Linked DNA regions of Homo sapiens. The protein of the gene in region 2 interacts with the protein of the main gene of each other region in a pairwise test. Each region holds a gene or a part of one and is shown on either strand. Other genes may lie near its edges. The genes, in order: LRSAM1, MUTYH, MSANTD3 and CYLC2.

Region 1 (3,500 bases), on a different chromosome or scaffold from region 2:
TCTCAACTCAACTCATAAAATATTTGAGAAAATGACTTCTTCCCAGCTCAGAATTAGAGGTCACAGTAATGCCTTCCTCTTACACGCAGTCTGCTGCATCCTCACATGCCTCAGGTGGGTGGTAGAGCATCCATGGGACAGGTGCAGAGACTGAGGCTCAGAGGGGTTGAGCCCAGCACCGGGCTCTAGACCACTAGCCTCTTCCTGTGAACAGCTTGTTTTCTTACAGTTGGGCCCTGGAGGGGAGTGGGGGTTGCTCAGCATGAAGACCTGGAGCCTGCCCTGTCAGTGTTGAGGGGTGGATTCTCCCGACTTCTGTGTCCTAACTCCCCCAGGGCCTGTGCTGACAGTCACCAGGATCTGTGTCTTGCAGGAACAGAAGATGCTGGAGAAACTCGAGTTTGAACGGCGCCTGGAACTGGGGCAGCGGGAGCACACCCAGCTCCTTCAGCAGAGCAGCAGCCAGAAGGATGAGATCCTTCAGACGGTCAAGGAGGTTTGTGAGCCGCCTGCTAGGGTCCAGCCTGGCTGCATCCCCCAGCCAGTGGCCTCCTGGCTTGGGCCAAGGTCCCTCGGATGTGGAAAGGCAGTGGGATGAAGCTGTCACTTCCTTCTGTCCCCCAGCACCTGGGAGGGCCCTTACAGATCACCCAGCCCAGCCTCCCCGTGTGCAGATGGACACTGTAGCCTACTGGGAGGAGCTGGCCGGAGGTCACACAAAAAGGATTGGCAAGGCAGGGTGGGAAAGCCAGCCTCCTAACCCCAGTCAGTACCCCTCACGGCGTCTGAGGGGGTCCCAGGGGCTCAGGACCCCTACCTCCGGCTGCAGGAGCAGTCCCGGCTGGAGCAGGGCCTGAGTGAGCACCAGCGCCACCTCAACGCAGAGCGGCAGCGGCTGCAGGAGCAGCTGAAGCAGACGGAACAGAACATTTCCAGCCGGATCCAGAAGCTGCTGCAGGACAATCAGAGGTTGGGCTCTGCTCCTCGGCCCCAGCCCCAGAGTCCTTCCCCGTGCAGTCCCCTGAGGAGCCGGGAGGAGTGTGTTTCTCCCTCACTGCCTCTGCCCCTGCCCCGGGCTTCCCTTGTCAGGATCCAGTCTGGGTGCTTCAACTGGCACCAGCGTAGAGAGAAAAGAATCTGACCCAGTCATTACAAAGTCTGGTTTCTTAGCATGAGACTGCTACCAGATTGGACCTGTGGCCTCGGGCAAATGTTTCCCCACTGGGCCCCAAGCTTCCCATCTATAAAGTGAGTGGGTTTGACAAGATAGTTGGGATCACATCCTGCTCCAGTATTTTGGGTTCTGCGTAACCCGTTGCACTGAGGTCAGCTGTTCACCTGTAGTGAGATTTGCCTTAACAAACCCTGTGCAAGGTACGAGCTAGTAAGAGCAGATCTTGATGGGGCTGGGGAGACATGGCGCCAGAAAAGCCTGAGAAGTCTAGTGAGGGGGCCCATTGCAGGATGATTCCAGAAACAGGCTCCAGCCATATGCCCTGCCACTTCCAGGCCTCTTTTTTCTAACCCTGAATCACTCGTTCCTCCCTCACCTGTCAGTTTCAAAAGTACCTGCATGAGTTCAGGAAACCAGTCATTTGTTGGATGCTTCTTATGTGCCAAGCTTGTTACATCTATTTCTTCATTAAGTCTTTACAAATGCACCAAGAAGCTGGGTTGTTTTCATTTTGTTTTGTTTGAGACAGAGTCTCGCTGTGTCACTGAGGCTGGAGTGCAGTGGTGTGCTCTCGGCTCACTGCAACCTCCTTCTCCCAGGTTCAAGCAATTCTCTTGCCTCAGCCTCCCAAGGAGCTGGGACTACAGGCTTGGGCCACCACGCCTGGCTAATTTTTGTAGAGATAAGGTTTCTCCATGTTGACCAGGCTGGTCTCGAACTCCTGACCTCAAGTGATCTATCCACTTCAGCCTCCCAAAGTGCTGGGATTACAGATGTGAGCCACTGTGTCTGGCTGGGTTTTTTTATTCTTCTAATTTCATAGGTGAGGAAACCTGGGACTTGAGTGGTTTCAGTAACTGGCTAAGAACCCAGAGCTTCAAGGTGGTGGAGCCAAGGTGCCCCCAGCCCATTTCCTAAGCCCCTCTGCACAGCTAACGCAGTGAGACAGGAAACAGGCCTGCTGGTGACTGCCAGGACCTTTTATGATTTTCTCCACAGACAAAAGAAAAGCTCCGAGATTTTGAAATCGCTGGAAAATGAAAGGTAAGTGTTCTTCCAGGGGAGGGCAGCATTTTTTTTTTTTTTTTGAGACGGAGTCCTGCACTGTCGCCAGGCTGGAGTGCAGTGGCACAATCTCGGCTCAGTGCAACCCCCGCCGCCCAGGTCCAAGCAATTCCCCTGCCTCAGCCTCCCGAGTAGCTGGGACTATAGGCGCATACCACCACCAGCTAATTTTTTGTATTTTAGTAGAGACGGGGTTTCACCGTGTTAACCAGGATGGTTTCGATCTCCTGACCTCATGATCTGCCCGCCTCGGCCTCACAAAGTACTGGGATTGCAGGCGTGAGCCACTGCTCCCGGCCAAGGAGAGCAGCTTTGAGGGGAGAATGTCTTGTGATTCTCCAGAGGATTATGCCAGGACATTTCCCTAAAGCTATAAGGAGATTCACCTCCTTAGACGATATTTAATTACAAAGAATCATTGTCTTCAAGTTCATTAAAACATACGTACACTCCTGAAAAACATTCAGAGACATGAATAAGGCTAGATATATAATGTCCAACTATATTCCTAGTATAAAAAGTTCAGGCCAGGCGCAGTGGCTCACATCTGTAATCCCAGCACTTTGGGAGGCCGAGGTGGGCAGATCACTTGAGGTCAGGAGTTTGAGACCATCCTGGCCAACATGGCAAAACGCTGTCTCTACTAAAAATCAAAACTTAGCCAGGAGTGGTGGCAGGCGCCTATGGTTCCAGCTAAAAAAAAAAAGAAATTCAGAAAAAAAATCTAAATTTCTGGAAAGAAAAATTATTTAGTTACATAAATTATGTATGGAGGAATAACCTGCAGCCATTAAATGTCTTATTGAATAATATTTCTCATTAAGGGAAAACATAACATATTGCTAATGGAAAAAGTGACAGGCTATATTTATAGCAGAATTTTTAGTATATCTTTTTTTTTTTTTTTTTTTTGAGACGGAGTCTCACTCTGTCACCCAGGCTGGAGTGCAGTGGCACGATCTCGGCTCACTGCAACCTCCACCTCCCAGGTTCAGGCGATTCTCCTGCCTCAGCATCCCGAGTAGCTGGGATTATAGGCGCATACCACCAGGTCCGGCTGATTTTTGTATTTTTAGTAGAGATGGAGTTTCACCATGTTGGCCAGGCTGGTCTCAAACTCCTGACCTCAAGTCATCCGCCTGCCTCAGGCTCCCAAAGTGCTGGGATTACAGGTGTGAGCCACCGCACCCGGCCATGTGACTATTTGTGAAGGAAATATTTAAAGGACATTTTGCTAGGTGCCAACTTACCTTCCCAAAAA
Region 2 (3,589 bases):
AATGTGGAAGTAAGCAGGTTTGGTGAAGGAAGTTTGGCTATGAAGGGAAGGAGGGTGGGATTTGATTGTGTTACGAGCCAAGGGGAAAATCTTTCCCTTTGCCCTCTGAAGATCTGCTGAAAAATCAGCTCACAAAAGGCAGGTTAACTGGAGAAAAGGCATACAAATTTATTAACATGCACATTGGGAGAACCATAAAGTGATTACCCATCTCCCTACAGAGTTCGTGAGTTTATATACCATCTGGCAAAACAGATTATGGGAGGGGTGTCTCACGTGTGTCCATGTGAAGAGACCACCAAACAGGCTTTGTCTGAGCAACAAGGCTGTTTATTTCACCTGGGTGCAGACAGGCTGAGTCTGAAAAAAAGGAGTCAGCAAAGGGTGGTGGAATTATCATTAGTTCTTATAGGTTTTGGGATAGGCATTGGAGTTAAGAGCAATGTTTTGGGGGCAGGGGGTGGATCTCACAAAGTACATTCTCAAGGGTGGGGAGATTATAAAGAACCTTCTTAAGGGTGGGGGGGAGATTACCAAGTACATTGATCAGTTAGCGTGGGGCAGAAACAAATCACAGTGGTGGAATGTGATCAGTTAAGGCTATTTTCACTTCTTTTGTAGATCTTCAGTTGCTTCAGGCCATCTGGATGTATAAGTGCAGGTTACTGAGGATATGATGGCTTAGCTTGGGCTCAGAGGCCTGACAAGGGGTAGAAGAGAAATTCTGTTTTTCTGTTTTTGTAGAGACGGGGTCTTGCTATGTTGCAAGCCTAATCTCGAACTCCTGGGCTCAAGTAATCCTCCTGCCTTGGCCTCCCAAAGTGCTGGGATTACAGGCCTGAGCCAGCATGTCCAGCTCTATTTGTTTTTAAATAAACCGAACTTTGGCCAGAAGGAGATTCTGTTGAAGGGCAATAAAGGATTACTAGAGAGAATGGAATGGGGACAGAGGTTGACTTGTTAATAGTTCTCTTTGGAATTTGAGTGATCCTGAGGTACACAATACCTGTGAAAGGGTTTGTTCAGGTGTGGTTACATGTTAGTCTTATTGGGAGGGGAAGAAAAAACAAGTATTCTTTTTAGTGAGTTTGGACTTTAGGCAGATAAAGAGTTCCAGAGAACAACTTTATCCTGGCTTTGGGAGAGTCTGGGGTGGAAGGATCAGAGAGACCTTGCGGCTTCTTGAGTTCAGCATGTCAGAGGGCCATATTTTGGGGTATTGGTTTCTTTTCTTTTCTTTTTTTTTGAGACAGAGTCTTGCTCTGTCTTTGTTGCCCAGGCTGTGCAGTGGCATGATCTCAGCTCACTGCAAGCTCTGCCTCCTGGGTTCAAGCGAGCACGTCTGGCTAATTTTTTTGGATTTTTAGTAGAGATGGGGTTTCGCCATGTTGGCCAGGCTGGTCTCGAACTCCTGGCCTCAAGTGATCTGCCTGCCTTAGCCTCCCGCAGTGTTGGGATTACAGGCATGAGCCACCGTGCCTGGCCTGGGGTATTAGTTTCTGAGTTCCAACAGTTAGACGGGATTGGAGGAGCAGGACCCTGAAGAGGAGGAGGGTAAGACAGTGCAAATGGAGGTAGATTTGAAGTTGGTTTTTTTTTTTCTGAAGGAGGAGGCAAGCTCTTTTGATGAAAATGAGGTGGTAAAGTCAAAGGTTTGGGGGGAGAGTTTGATACAGAGGCTTAGCAGGGACTGCATTTTATCACAGTATAAGAATGCTGGTCGTGGATTTGAAAGAACAAGTCGCTTAATCTCCATAAACCTCAATTTCCTTATAACTAAGGTGGAGGTGATACTAGTACATACCTCATAGAGTCACCAGGAGATTGAGAGATCCGGTAAAGCTCTTCATGGGGTCTGACATAGAGTAGGCACTCACAAAATATCAACTAATTTTAGCTGTTAGAGAAAAGGCGGCCATTATAACAGTTAGGGAGCAGTGAAAATCAACCAGGCACATTTTCTCATTGTTGATGGTCAGCCACCTATGGTTTACTAGATTAGGAATAAAAATAGCTAATCTCTGTTCTCCCACTGATTTGCCATCTGTTCTCAGACAGATCTTTTGTCCCTCTGATCCTTGGTTTCTTCTAGGATAAAATGAAGGTTTTGGACTTAATGACTACTACAGGCTGTTTCAGTGTAACCATGCTACATCTCTAAGAGGCAGAGAAACCGCCTACCCCCATTCTCCCAGACACACCTAAACAACCCCTATCCACACACACAGTCACAGTAAGCATCAGAGATACACAAATGCTCCCAAACAGGAGGCTTTCATCCTTGACCCATCCCAGCCCTGGCCTCACAGTCTTTGCATGTCTCCAGGGCTGTAACGCCGGCCCCCTTGAGGCCACTTGCTCAGCTATACTAGTTGTATCTCAGTGCTGCAGCCAGCCAAGAGTAAACCCGTGAGCATCTTGAGAGTGCTTGAGAGAAGCTGGACCCCATGTGAATGGTGGATGAGAGGGAGATAGCTATCACCCTTGGAAGGCCTCAAAATTTGGCCTCATTGTGACTGACTGCTTTGGCTGGGTCTTTTTGTTTCAGGCCATCATGAGGAAGCCACGAGCAGCCGTGGGAAGTGGTCACAGGAAGCAGGCAGCCAGCCAGGAAGGGAGGCAGAAGCATGCTAAGAACAACAGTCAGGCCAAGCCTTCTGCCTGTGATGGTAAGGAACTAGGTTGTGGCCCAAGGCTCATTGGCCATGAAAGGCAGATTCAGGCTGGGAAGGGATTGTGATACGTATCAAGACATTAAGAGACTTACTAAGGGCCAGGTGCGGTGGCTCACACCTGTAATCCCAGCACTTTGGGAGGCCGAGGCAGGTGGATCCCTTGAGCCCAGGAGTTTGAGACCAGCTTGGGTAACATGGCGAAATCCCCTCTCTATGCTCGCGTGGTGGTGAGCGTCTGTAGTCCCAGCTACTCGGGAAGCTGAGGTGACAGGATCGCTTGAGCCTGGAAGGCAGAAGTTGCACTGAGTCAAGATAATGCAACTGCATTTCAGTCTGGGCAACAGAGCCAGACTCTTGTCTCAAAACAAAAGAGACTCACTGAGGGTGTAATTCTGACTGTATTGCTGTGTGACATTGGGACAATTGCTCTGAATGGCTGCTTTCTTACCAGTAAAATGGAGCAGTAGTTCAGCATTTCCTCCCTCATGTGGCTTTCATGGGACCAAATGAGTTTATGAGCCTGAAAGTGTTTTGTGAATAGGAAGGTCCTGCACCAGTATACATTCTAGCTGGCTAAAACTATTAGGTTTTCATTATGGCTCAGAGACAAGCCAGTAGTACCACCCTGAGAAAATTAAGGCCAGAAACTTAGCCACAGCTACACACAATTACATAACTCTGGTCTGACTCCAGCTCCAAAGCTTAAGGGGGTTAGTTGGGGGAAGCCCTAAGTGGGAGCATACTGCCACAGGCTGCTGTGTCCCAAGACCCTGATGCACAGCCTGTGCAGGGATGATTGCTGAGTGTCCTGGGGCCCCAGCAGGCCTGGCCAGGCAGCCGGAAGAGGTGGTATTGCAGGCCTCTGTCTCCTCATACCATCTATTCAGAGACGTAGCTGAAGTCACAGCCTTCCG
Region 3 (3,589 bases), on a different chromosome or scaffold from region 2:
GTAAGCTGCTTCAAACCCATTTTAGAAGGAAGCCGTTATAAAGAAAATAAACATAACAGACTGGGTATTAATTGAGGAAGGCTTAACAAAAATTGCATGAGAGTTGGGCTTTGAAGATTGAAAATGGGCCGGGCGCGGTGGCTCACGCTTGTAATGCCAGCACTTTGGGAGTGAGACTCTGTGTCAAAAAAAAAAAAAAAAAAGAGAGATTGAAAATGGGCCCTTGGTGGCCTTGGGGTAAAGGATTCCAGCCAAAGGAAGCCGCGTGTTGAGTTTGGTCTGGTTAGGTTGAAAATACATGGAGAGAATGAGGGGCTGGTGGGGGTGCTATAATCAGGACCAGATCCGGAAAGGCCATGAATGCCATGTGAAGAGTTGGGACTTTTATCGTTTAGGCAGTGGGAGAGACGTCTGAGGTTTACAAGGAGGCCTGTGGCTTGATCACTGTGTTTTAGGAAGATCCCTGTAGTTGTGTGGAAGAGGGTATGGAAGTTTGGGAGACCATTTTAGAGATTAGCTCTGTCCACAGACATGGGCAGTGAGAATGGGAGAGGAGGGAACAGATGTTTGGGTAAAATGTACCATAGGTCTTGTTAATTAGTTGCATGTGATTGAAGATTACATTTCTGCTTTGGGAAGCCAAGTTGATGTGGCTGACATCATCAGAAATCAGGAGATTTTGGTGTATGGGGAATAATTAGTTTGGTTTTGGCTATGGAGAGTTGGAGTTTTCTGAGGTACCCATAGTGGGGCACAGAGGTGGCTGATAGATAATTGGAAATGTGTTTGATGCTAAGGAGAGAGGTTGAGGCTTGGAAGAGAGGTTCTTCCATCACTGCCACTTTATTCTTTTTCTTTTTTTCTTTTTTTTTTTGTTTTTGAGATGGAGTTTTGCTCTTGTTGCCCAGGCTGGAGTGCAACGGCGCAATCTCGGCTCACCGCAACTTCCACCTCCCGGGTTCAAGCAATTCTCCTGCCTCAGCCTCCTGAATAGCTGGGATTACAGGCATGCACCATGATACCTGGCTAATTTTGTATTTTTAGTAGAGACGGGGTTTTTCCATGTTGGTCAGGCTGGTCTCGAACTCCCGACCTCAGGTGCTCCTCCCACCTCGGCCTCCCAAAGTGCTGGGATTACAGGCGTGAGCCACCATGCCTAGCCTTTTTTTTTTTTTTTTTTTAAAGAGACAGCGTTTTACTCTTTCACCTAGGTTGGAGTGCAGTGGTGCAATCATTGTTCACTGCAACCTCAGATTCCTGGGCTCAGGTGGTCCTCCCACTTCAGCCTCCCAAGTAGCTGGGATTACAGATGCTCATGCCTGGCTAATTTTTTAATTTTTATTTTTAGAGATGGAGTATCACTGTGTTGCCCAGGCTGGTCTCAAACTTCTGGCATCAAGCAGTACTCCCCCACTGCCTTCCAAAGTGCTGGGATTACAGGTGTGAGCCACTGTGCCTGCGTCCCCACTCCCAACTTTTTTTTTAAAACAAACACTTACTGTGAATCTACTATGTGCTGAAGATAGATATAAAATGTAGTTCCATGCCTCGGAGCTCACCGTCAGATAGGGAGAGCCTTCAGGATATGGATAGATCTCAGTGCAGAGTAATTCTGAGTGCTGCAAGAGGTAAATACTTGGTACCCTTGTCCTAGAGAAGATTTGAGAGCCGATGGTTGTAGCTGAGGTGGTGGGAGTGGAGGAGAGTGTATTCAGTAGACGAGAAGGAGGCTGGAGTGGGAACACCTACAGAAGGGGACCTTCTGTTTTTCAACACTGCTTTCTGTGGAAGATACCTTAATAATGATTCCAAAGGCATTTCAGGGAAGCCGTGGGTGGGGATGGTTTAAGATGGAGTGTGGGGAAGGGGAAGGACGGGGTTAGGACTTTAAGAACTCTCATCTGGTTTATAGAGGGGACTGTGAGGATGGGAAAGTGGGGGAGACCTGGCTTTCAACACAAGGCTGGTTCTGCATGCACACAGTCACACTCAGGCGCAGATGATGAAAATAAACACTTCCAAGTTACATGGCTGCCTGGAGTGGGTGGAAAAGTGGTAGAGAGGGAATGCATTAGAGAAAGCAAGTTCGGTGCTAGGCTTGACTGGAAAGCTCTCGAAAAGGAAAGAAAGAAGGTAGAGAGGCAGAGAGAGCTTGGGTGAGTGGCCATCCTGGGCACACAGGTATGTACATGTGCAGGCAGGTAAGAGTACTGTCCAATTACTCTCACCTCTGGATAAAATGAAATCCTGAAGGCATCATAGTGGTTGTGAGGCTCTTAAAACATTGCCATTTCTACCTTCTTTGAACTGTAATGATGTTTGCAAGAAGGAAACGATTATATTATGATAAATCCTTTGTAAGAGGAGAAATTTAAAATAATAAAACATCTAGCAATAATCAGTTAAAAAATGCAAATGGCAAGCAGGTTGGTTATGGCAGGTAATTCCACAAATATTTATTGAGTGCTTGATGTACACCAGGCACTCTTCAAGGAGCCATAGTGAACAGATCAGATCACCTGCTTTTGCCATTTCACCTGGAACTGCTTAACTTGCACAGTTAAACCTGTTTAAAGGCCTTAAGCAAAATAACAAGGTCATCTAAAGTGCTGAGATCACTTCATTCTGCTGTAATGCTCTCTTTCATTGGCCAGTAGCTCCACCAGTCTCATAAATAATCAGAAAATACCAACTATGTGTCTTTGGCAGTGAACTGTGGAAATTAGATTGCAGAAAAACCATTTTAATGGCAGTGCTAACATGGATGACCAGTACTGGATAGGACTTTAGAGAATACCCCCTTGAGCTTTATAATTTAGAGACGAGGAATTGACAGCAAGTAAAGAAGACGTGCCAAGACAAATGTCACAAAATGAATGACAGAGTTGAGAGCAGTGCCCTGGAGTTTTCAAATGGTACAGTCGGGGAGGCTTGAGAGTACCTAGCAAAAAGGGCATCTTGATGGTGAGGGGGTTCTGAAGTGGGAGAGGGGTTGGAAAGCAAATGATGAAGCCTTGATTTCAGACTCTTCTCTGTTACTAGGGCCTTGGGAAGCCCTGTTTTGCTCTGAGCCTCAGTTTCCTCAACTGTAAAGTAAGAGGATTAGATTGAGGTCCTTCTTTAAATTTATTTATATTTTTTCTTTTTCTAAAGCTCCACTCTCAGAAGCAGTGGTAGGGTTGGGCTTTGAGGCCATGGGTCCAAGCCCATGTCCTTAACCTCTATATTATACTACCTTTTTTTTCTTGGAGACAGGGTCTTGCTCTGTCACCCTGGCTGGCATGCAGTGGCATGATCATATCTCACTGCAACCTCAACCTCCTGGGCTCAAGGGATTCTCCTGTCTTAGCCACCCTAGTAGCTGGGGCTATAGGCACATGCCACCTTGCCTGGCTAGTACTTTTAATTTTAATTTTTATAGCAATGGAGTTCTCCCATTGTTGCCTAGGCTGGTCTTGAACCCCTGGGCTCAAGCAATCCTCCTGCCTTAGGCCCAAAGTTCTGTGATTACAGATGGTGATCACCACACCTGGCCAAGGTCCTTTGTAGTTTAAAACAAAGGTTATTTTTGAGATGTTGAGTCAGGAGA
Region 4 (4,236 bases), on a different chromosome or scaffold from region 2:
GGAAACACAGTAATTAAGGCCTCATATTTACCAAGATTAAATGGCATGTAGAAGCTAAAATTCCACCTTCACTTCAAGCTTATATATTCAGTCACTTCAAAATCATTTTCAGTAACTGTGCATGTTCTGAGGTAAAGGTTTCCCATTGTCAACAATGTAGAATATAATGTATTTGAAACTTTGAAAAGAAAACTAGGATTAAGTTTTCTGAAATAAAAAGTAGAGAAGCAAGAGACATGGGGGACTTTATTTCTTAAGAGAAAAATCTATTTCTATTCTATCACCATAAAAAATTTTTTTCAGGGGTAAACCTTTAACCAAGTTTGTTTTTCTGATTATTTTTCCTTTTAGTCTGGGTTATATTTTAATCTAAATACAAAATCCACCCATCTTTCCTCTTGCCTGTAACTGTATCTCTGCTTAGATGTGTTTTAAAAATATATAGTGGATTCAAAGTCAAAGGATTTAAATGATATATCTTCCCAAGTTACATGTGAGTTGTTCATAGACCTCCTGATTGTATGCATATTGCCAGATATCTTGCTAGTAGACTAGATTTTTGGAATCTGCATCAGCTGCAGGGAAAAGAAGACCATAAAAGACATGGTAGAAAGTTTTCTAGGAACTGACTGCAGCCTGAGCTTCTCTTCTTGTATTTGCTAGAGGAGTCTCTGTGTAAAGGCAAGGTCAACTGCCCCAGGATTACTGTCTTGCTGAGGAATGGCTCTGTGTGTAGTAAGATTCTCTGTCTTTCTCTAGCATTTTCTGAAGCAGTGTTTCTTAGCATGGATTTATTTCGAACTCCTCACCCAGAGAATATTTTGCAATGTCTGAAGACATTTTCCTTGTCACAATTGTCTATGTGTATGTGCGTGTGATGATACTAGCATCTAGTTGGTAGAGACCAGGGATACTGTTAAAAATATTATAATGCATCTTACAATGGACAGAATGCTGGATCTCCCCTACCCCCAGCACCTACTAATCCTCTATTCCAACAAAAAGTTTTCTAGACTACGATGTGAGTGGTGCCAGGATTTATAAAACCTTGTCTACATCAAGGTGAATCCCTAGACCAGGATAGTAAGAGACGACTTTAGTAATGCTACTCAATAGAGAGAAAAACATAAAATATACATTAGATACGAGATTGGGAAGCTAATATTGGAATTTTAAATGTTCATATATTTAGATACCCTATCTCACACCAAATTTTTGTGATAACCTCTCCTACCTGTTTCAGAAATCTTAGTTCTATTCAACATTATAAATGGGCTGAGTTGACTAACACAACCTAAATTTGAGGCCAAGGCCAGAAGTGATGAAACTATTAAATGGTATAGTTGAGGTTTGGATAGAGCAAAGGTATTAGAGAAGGAATAAGTGGGAAAGGAAAAACTGAGTTCAAACAGAAAAATTTTCTTTATCACATACAAGTTGATAGCCATAGGCACAGAAATGTTAAGTCCAAAACTAAGGCTCTGCCATCCTTAGAAGAATTCAGTGAAAAGACAAATGGAGTCGAAAATTAATTTTCTGCATCTTAAATTTTGCGTGTTCAATGAATTGGGAGCTGTCACTTGAACTCAAAGAAATATGCTAATTTGTTATTAAGAATTTTTATGTATGCTTTTCTGGCTAATGGTGAGGCCATTTGATTATGATTTCTATCAGTTTCCTCCTACAAAAACCAGAATGTTTTGGGATTACACTAGAATAACACCATAAAAAATAGCCATAAGACCAAAAAGAGGTTTCTAACCATTGTGGTCAAGTTCTCTGAAAGCTATTTGATGCTCATGATAACAATAATACCATCGATATTTTACAGTGCTTATATATTTGAAAGTAATTAAAATACAGTGTAATTCTGCCATGTTAGGTGCCAGAACATAGATTTTTGCATAGTAGGCATCAATTTACTCAGCTTCTAAAGTAATCATGACAAATGCATTTAAACCTTTACCAAAAATTATACTTTAATGATTGTTTTATAACAAAATGGGCACCAGTATCTATGGAAAGCCTATTTTATTTTTAATATTCATGTTTTATCTTTCCTTTAACAATACTGCTAAATTAAGGCCCACCCATACTTTATATTACAAAACTCCATTCCTTCACCTTTGTTGCATGTCCTCTGTAAAAGGGTTTACAGAATTGAAACGTGCTCTTTACCTACCTTATTTTGACACAGAATAAATTAAGCATAAGTAAACTACTGTCATATAACTTCTCATGTCTGGATTATATGCTTTACATTACAAAGTACTTCCACATACTCAATATTTTGCAAGAGGGATACCACTAGTATTCAGTTGGTCACATTTGGATAGAGCTGCCCCACTTTTTACTAAAGGTTAACACTGCGATATAATGCCTCCTCTAAAATTCAGTCACACTCCTCAGTCACTATTACATACACAAAAAATATTCACAGAAATTTCCAAGGTGGTTCCCTGACTGAAAATCATGAATTATTTTATTTTATATTACTCAAAATGCAATGTGATAAAAAAATCAAGTAAGACTAGCAGTAAAAAAACAAACAAAAAAGACTTATCCAAAGCCAGGTATCTATTTTACTGAAATGCATGCACTAGCTATGTCTTAAATCAAAAAAATCTATTATGTTGCTTGAGAATCTTTGTCTGCTTAAACACATTATCTTTTGCTTATGAATGGCATCATAATAATATAATAAATATCTCTTCATACTAAAGAAGTTAAATGTAAAGCTAACGAGTATTTCAGTTATTTTAAAACATAAAATTTGACTTACAATCTTGGGAGAGACATTTTCCCCACTTATGACTTGCCAGGACTTAAGTATTGTAAGTTCAAACTGGTGATGTTGAAAGGTGACATCATAAAGAAGCCAAGAGCACTTGGAATTAAAGGGGTAAAACAAAAGGAGTCACTTGTGTTTTTATGTTCTCTAAAATTCTAAGATTAATATTTACTTTCACTTATTACTGACTAAATCTAGCTAGGAGTTTTAAAAGTAATCAATTGATTTTACACTTTAATAAAATATTTGTTTTATTTTTTTCATGTAATTGTAATTTATTGACTGATATGGAAAAAAGGTAAGTCTAAACATTTATCTGTGAGGATCAGCTGTAATCCTAAATTCCCTTTCATTCCTGTAACTTTTGTTAAATCAATGCATAACTTTACATGTCTTTCTCTCATCTTAAACGTATTGTTTTCTCATACATAGAATATTTTAAACAAAGCTATATGCTTTTTAAACTTATAAATATATGAGTTAGTACATTTTTATTAAACTCATAATCTTACCCCACTAATAAATGAATACTAGTACTATATAGAGAGGCATTTAAACATGTTGCTCTTATTTAGCTCTTTTTAAAATATCTTAGCTATTTTTTGTCTTAAGAAATAATTTTATTAAATATAAGCTTCTATAAGGGGTAAACTACAGAAATATTAGTAGTTTGACTCAAAGTTTCTAGCTGATCTTACACAATGATAAATTATAGAGGCATTGGAGCTGGGATGGGAGCCTTTCCATAATTTAGATTTCTGTGATCTGATTACTTCACTATCTGACTTAATGAGAATATCTACTGAAGTTTTCCTGAAAAGTGATAGTTTAATAAGTAAAGTATAATGTCTAATTCTATAATATTTTGTTGAGCATTTTATAGTCTATAGTGGCTTTTGAAAATATTAATCTCTAATGCATTGACTCTATCATCATACATTAAAATCTAAATAATGACTGGGCAACAGGCAATACTTGCCTTCTGCATTATCATCTCTTTAATTAATCTCTTATTGTCATTCTTAATTAAATGTGTATGATCTAGTAATATCTTAGCCAATGATATTTTTATAATGAGCATGTGTCAGTCTTCTATTGCTACATAGCAAATTATTACAAATTGAAGACATAAAACAATACTCAATTTTTATCTCATAATTTTATAATTCAAAAGCTTAGGCAGGTTTAACTAGGTCCTCTGCTTAGGGTCTCACAAGACTGAAATCAAATTGTCAGCTGAACTGTGTCTTACCTGGAGACTCAAAGAAAGAATCAGTGCCTAAGCACATTTCAGCTGGTGGAATTTAAGTCCTTGTGGCAGTAATTCTGATATCTCTGTTTTCTTCCTTGCTGTCAGCTATGAGCTGCTTTCTGTGCTTAGAAACTGCCTAAGTTCCTTCTCAAATACATCCCCCTACATCTTCAAACCTGAAATATTTCATGGA

The links.
Region 1: the proteins of MUTYH (region 2) and LRSAM1 interact in a two-hybrid assay, tested with the Homo sapiens proteins (one large-scale study listed by IntAct).
Region 3: the proteins of MUTYH (region 2) and MSANTD3 interact in a two-hybrid assay, tested with the Homo sapiens proteins (one large-scale study listed by BioGRID and IntAct).
Region 4: the proteins of MUTYH (region 2) and CYLC2 interact in a two-hybrid assay, tested with the Homo sapiens proteins (one large-scale study listed by BioGRID and IntAct).

What each region holds. Positions count from the first base shown.
Region 1 is NC_000009.12:127,479,010-127,482,509, forward strand, and holds part of LRSAM1 (E3 ubiquitin-protein ligase LRSAM1), read left to right. Parts: intron 1-373; coding exon 374-496; intron 497-829; coding exon 830-969; intron 970-2,173; coding exon 2,174-2,218; intron 2,219-3,500.
Region 2 is NC_000001.11:45,333,471-45,337,059, reverse strand, and holds part of MUTYH (adenine DNA glycosylase), read left to right. Parts: intron 1-2,092; exon of another isoform or gene 2,093-2,233; intron 2,234-2,548; coding exon of another isoform or gene 2,549-2,554; coding exon 2,555-2,669; intron 2,670-3,426; exon of another isoform or gene 3,427-3,456; coding exon of another isoform or gene 3,457-3,498; coding exon 3,499-3,589. UniProt on the Homo sapiens protein: Involved in oxidative DNA damage repair. Initiates repair of A*oxoG to C*G by removing the inappropriately paired adenine base from the DNA backbone. Possesses both adenine and 2-OH-A DNA glycosylase activities.
Region 3 is NC_000009.12:100,430,140-100,433,728, forward strand, and holds part of MSANTD3 (myb/SANT-like DNA-binding domain-containing protein 3), read left to right. Parts: intron 1-3,589.
Region 4 is NC_000009.12:102,993,944-102,998,179, reverse strand, and holds the start of CYLC2 (cylicin-2), read right to left. Parts: upstream 2,848-4,236; 5' UTR 2,800-2,847; coding exon 2,783-2,799; intron 1-2,782. UniProt on the Homo sapiens protein: Plays a role in the establishment of normal sperm morphology during spermatogenesis. It is required for acrosome attachment to the nuclear envelope, and proper manchette elongation and disassembly.